Linked DNA regions of Homo sapiens: region 1 is linked to region 2. Evidence: fine-mapped expression QTL. Tissue or cell type: atrial appendage. Region 2 holds a variant in brackets; the other region holds the start of a gene. All regions are shown on one strand. Distances are between the middles of the regions.

The links. PIP is the estimated chance that this variant, and not a neighbour inherited with it, causes the effect.
Region 1: it holds the start of PEBP4, and the variant in region 2 is fine-mapped to the expression of PEBP4 in atrial appendage (GTEx, PIP 0.91).

What each region holds. Positions count from the first base shown.
Region 1 is chr8:22,926,737-22,929,413 of GRCh38, reverse strand. PEBP4 (phosphatidylethanolamine binding protein 4) reads left to right here and starts at 1,500. Exons shown (of 7, transcript NM_144962.3): 1 at 1,500-1,591; 2 at 1,694-1,830. The coding sequence starts at 1,700.
Region 2 is chr8:22,746,255-22,748,931 of GRCh38, reverse strand. The region is part of intron 4 of PEBP4 (phosphatidylethanolamine binding protein 4); the gene reads left to right. It overlaps LOC124901908 (a long non-coding RNA gene), which reads right to left. Exons shown (of 3, transcript XR_007060855.1): 3 at 1-1,406. Among named protein-coding and RNA genes, the nearest start is that of EGR3, 54 kb to the right of the region's middle. The variant C/T (reference allele first, on the strand shown) is at 1,353.

The DNA of each region.
Region 1 (2,677 bases), 180 kb before region 2:
GACACCCAGAAAAGTTGAGACTTCTCTAGTGGATGCCATTTGGAAGATGAGTTTCTTGGTCTTGGGCAGCCCTTCTGGCAGCATCTCCTTGGCTGTGGCTGTCCTGTGAGCTGCATGCTCAACCTATACCCCAGGGCCCAACATGGGGCAGGCACGTGGGAGGTGCTTAATGCCTATGAGTGAAGTGGGTTGCAAAGGAATGAATGAATGGATGGATCCGTGAGAGAATACTTAGACTATTCATAAATTATTGAGCATTTACTATGTGCCAGGCACCTTACTGAGGGCTTAACCTGGTTGATTTCATTCTCATAATGATCTTGTGAGGAGGCTACTATTAGACTCTGTCCACTAGGGGAGATCTTGGGAATATGTTTTCTGGTTGGGGCAAGGGGGAGTCCTGGTTGTACTTCAGAGAACCTAATGATTGAGAAATGTGTTTAATATGTAGCCCCTAAGGGGGGCTTTTTGCTACAGGTTGGGATCCTGGAGGCAGGAATTGAGCCAGAAAGCAGACTATGCTGAAAGTAGTTTCTCTAAAGGTCTAGCTGCGTGTACTTTACAGCGATGATCTCATATTCCTTAGCAAGGCACCACGGTGACAGGAATTATTTTACTTGTTTGTGAAAAGGAAAAGTGGTGCATTCTAGGGAGACACAGTGGCCTCCCAGCATCCAGAGAGAGCTCAGAGCAGAAGCCAGGAGTCCTGAGTTGCTGGCACGTCTCTCCCACCCCCGCCTCTGAGAAGCAGAGAGCAGAGCTATTGGAAAGCCTGTTGCAAGCCGCCTTTATTCTTCTCCCTGCCCACTCAGGCTCAAACCAGAGTCCCACATGCACCTGGTGGCAGGACTGTTCCCCAAGGGAATGCAGGCGACAGTCCCCGGCTCCCCTTCCTCCCAGTGCACTGCTGGGGCAGGCCACCCCTTTCTGAGCCCCAAGCAGCTCCCCAGACCTCCTTCTCCAGATACGATTATTTTGGGAGAGTGCTGAGTGCAGCACAGCTGCAAGGTGCACCCAGACGCACCCTTCTGTCCTCAGCTGGCCCTTCGGAGCTGGCCCTTCGGAGCTGGCCTCGGTCTGGGGTGCACCTACCCCCACCCCCTGCAGCAGTCCCTCCTACACAAGGTCACTGTGTCCAACCACCTCCACCTTGGGGAAGCTCACAGGCTGTGGAGACAGGTGGTGGAAGAATGGGGGCCAGGAGAGTCAGAGCCGGTCTGAGGGGCACAGCCCAACTCCTAGCCCTGAGCCTGGGGTCACCAGCTTCCCAGGGCTTGCCTTACAGCCAAGGAGCAGGCTGGCCTTTGGCCAGCTGACCATCCCTGGGCCAACAGCAGGGACTGGACAAGGAGCTGCACCGAGGAGCTTATATAAGCACTTCTACTTTGCAGCCTGCTCTCTGCCCTGGCAGCCAGGACAAGAGTGACAACAAAGCTGTGTCCTGCCAGGGGAGGGGCCTCTGCCAGGAACGTACATTGAGTCCAACTTGGAAGAGGCCCAGTCCTCCCAAAGTACTTGTGTCCGGGTGGTGGACTGGATTAGCTGCGGAGCCCTGGAAGCTGCCTGTCCTTCTCCCTGTGCTTAACCAGAGGTCTCTATCCTGCCAAGTGGGCCCCTGGGGTCGGGGGCACAGGTAGTGGGCAGGAAGGCCCCTGCAGGGGATCCAGCCGCTCTAAAGTTCTTTCTGTTCCAGGTGCCCATGGGTTGGACAATGAGGCTGGTCACAGCAGCACTGTTACTGGGTCTCATGATGGTGGTCACTGGAGACGAGGATGAGAACAGCCCGTGTGCCCATGAGGCCCTCTTGGACGAGGACACCCTCTTTTGCCAGTAAGTCAGGGCAGGCTTGGAGGCGGGAGGCACAGAGGCTACCAGGCAGGTAGATGGCAGGGAGGGGTATATCCAGAACCAAGAAGCACCATCTCCTGAGCCTGATTTTATGGGAAGGCAGAACACGTGTCAGATCTGGAGACCACCTTGATGGAGGATGGCACTGAGAAAGGGATTTAGAAACAGACTCCTTCCTGCCTTCCAGAATGCACCTCTCCCAGGACCAGGAGGGCTGTGTATGTGGTCGGCTCTGCTTGGGCCCTCCAAACCTGGGGGGTCTTTGTGGGGGCAGGAGGCTGAGACCCTCAGAGAGAGACCCAGAGAGAGACCATCCCTCCCTGCAGCCTGAATGCCCCCTCTCCCCAGAACCCCAACAAAGAGGCATTTGAATGAAAGAAGGTGTATGATTAGACCCTTCCTGTGTGAGAGGTTTTTGTCAGTGATAGGACCCAGGAGCGTTTGTGCAGGGCCCTTTAGGGATCATGGCACTGGATGGAGTTGGGTGACGAGGCTGGCTTCTTCCCTTCCAAGGGCACAAGCTGCTTCTACTTTGGGTAAGCTGGAAAGCCTGGCGTTCGGCTCTCTCCTCACCAACTCTGCCGGTTAGAAAAGCAAGCCTTCATTTGTGTGGACTTGTGGGTCATCCTGAGGACTCCCCAGGCCAAACTGATGCCAAACCTCCCTGCCAGTTTGGTGGCTGAGGAGGGGGACACCCCACTGAGCCCACGTGTGAGAAATGAGAGAGGAGGAAAAAGAACTTTGACTACTTACTCTCTTCTGTACCTTTGAATTTTCACAAACATTACTGTTCATGAAAATGTTTGTTTTTCTTTTTAATTTTATTTAA
Region 2 (2,677 bases):
GCAGAATCCCAGAGTTCAGAGGTACCCAAGGGGTCCTCTGGGCCAACACCCTTCCCCCAGGCAAGTCCGCACCTAAATCATCCAGGACTCGTGGAGGCCTCTCCTGTTCTCCTGGGGTGTGTAGTGGTGGCCGAGAAAAGGCCTACCCTGCATGTGGGAGCCTCGTAGCTTCTGGGGGGCTCTCTTCTATTTTTCTGGGATGCTCTTGCTTATAGGGAACCCCAAGACTACCAAAAGCTGTTCCACCCACCTCCCCACCCTCCCTCTGACTCAGGGCTGCTGACAGCCGGGTGAACTCTGAGTCACACCCCCTCCTTGTTCTCCCCTCAGACCACCCTCATCATGTGCAACCTAGTACAGAAGAATGCTGGGGAGGGGAGAAGAGCAAGTGGAGCCTAAGGACTTGACCCTGAGCAGCTGAAGGTTGGGAAATTAGGATCACAAGTCCTCAGTGCCCTCTCCCCTCAGGCATCTAGCATGCAGTTTCGCTCTGATGCAACTCTCTGCCAGGCGGGTTCTGTGACCCAGCATCCCGGAGGCTTGGGTACCTTCTGGGGCAGGAAGAGAAAGTATCTTCTTCTCTCCACACTGTAGCCACATTCCATCAATACGGACTGATGGGCTTCTGTCCCCTCACCCTGGAGGGCTCCTCTCAATGGTCCATCCAACCTCAGCCACAGGCTTGGAGCCATCATCATACCCTAGCAGCCTGAGCGCAGCCCCCTCTTGGAGAAGGGCTCCCCTTTTCTCTCCAGATCTGGGGAGATCTGTAAGCAGAGCTTGGCACAGGCTCATTGGTCTCCCTTCCTCACACCTCCCTGCCCGGGTGTGTGCCTGCACGTGTGTGCACATGCGTGTGGATGTGCCCCAGTTGCTGAAGTTGACTAAGAGTCTGAGCATTGCATAAGCCAGGGCCCAAGTCCAGGCAAGGGCCAGCCTTTCCTCCGCTCTCCACCCAGGCTGGGACGAACCTCTCCTCCAGCGCCAGGACCCACAGCTCTGTGGGAGAGCCTGCACGCGGCCCTGGGCTCCTGCTCCACAGTGCTTGTGTGAGCACACACTCACACATTCCCTGAGAAAGCCCCCGGGGCCTCTGTGGGAAGGCTTTCCGGGAGACTTTTATGGCCAAAGAGGAAGGAAGTCCATCGTTGGAACAGCCAGGGCCAGGCAGCGGGCAAACGCCGGCCAGGAGCAGAGTCAGGCTGCAGCCTTCCCACTGTGAATTCTTTAAGCCTTTTCCTAGTCTCAGGCTACTCAGCGAGGCAGCGCCAGGCTGAAAAGCAACATCCCGTAGGGTCCCCCTGCCACCCCTCAAGCCCCCCACCCCCCTGAGCGTGCACACCCATGCACAC[C/T]CCACTCACCCTGCTGCTCACACTGGCTCCCCCAGCTCTGATCACAGTAGGCTCCTGCCCAAAGAAACACAAACCTTGAGGCTTGCAATAAATCATCTTCATTATTTTACTGAAGAGGCCACAGAGACCCACAGATCTGGTGACTTGCCCAAGGTCACCCAGGTTCAAGTCCAGAACCCAGTCGTCTGTGGCCTCTCTCGGGTGCTGTACAGGAGGCTGGGCACAGCAGAGACCCTGGATCTACACAGTGGCACTTGAGGAAGGGACAGAGCCTGAACAAGGGTGGGGGCACCCCCAGGGACTTCCCAGGAATCCAGCACTTATTATCACCCACAGCTCTGATGTCCACTATGGTAGTCACTAAGTGCATGTGGCTATTTCAATTTAAATTAATTCAAATTAAATAATTTCACTTGTGGTAGCCCATAATAAGTACAAAATTAATAAATAATTCCAGGTATGGTAGCTCATGCCTATAATCCCAGCACTTTGGGAGGCCAGGGCAGGAGGATCACCTAGGAGTTAAAGACCAGCCTGGGCAATGTGCTGAGACCCCCGTCTCTAAAAAAATTTTAAAATTATAAAAATTAGCTGGGTGTGGTGGTACATGCCCATAGTCCCAGCTGCTTGGGAGGCTGACATGGGAAGATCACTTGAGCCGTAATTACGCCACTGCACTCTAGCCTGGGTGACAGAACGAGAGTCAAATAATTCTTTTTACAACTCCATTCCTCCGAACTTTGATGACCACAGGCAGCTGGCAGCTACTCTATAGTACAACACAAAGAGAGGACAACTCCACCATCACAGAATGTCGCACTGGACAGCACCGATCTGGAGGGAGGCAGATTGGGGATCGAATGGTCAGAAGAAATCTGTTCTCTGATGGAAGGCTGAGGTCCTCTGTGAAGGAAAGAGGGAAGAGAGGAGGGAGGAGAGGAGGAGAGAGAGGAGGGAGAAGAGGAGGAGAGGGCGGAACAAAGGAGGGGAGGGGGAGAGGCGGGAGAGAGGAGAGAGGACAGGGAGGAAGAGGCTGGAATCGGAGAGAAGGGGAAGGCAGTGAAGGGAAGGAGAGAGGACACAGCTCTGGCTTTCTTCTCTGGCTGAGATCTGACCAAACGCGAGGAGACTAACACTCTCCCCACCGCACCCTCCATCCTAGTCCAGAAGGACCAGAGCCCAGAATCACAGACACCGCAACCAGCCAGGGGCCAAAGAGACAACACCTGGTGGCTTTCCAGACCCAAAGTGCCCAATCTGCTTCCAAATTGATCAGCCCTTGTACCCAGAGCTCTCTCTAACCCCAGAGGGGCCTCCACACCTCA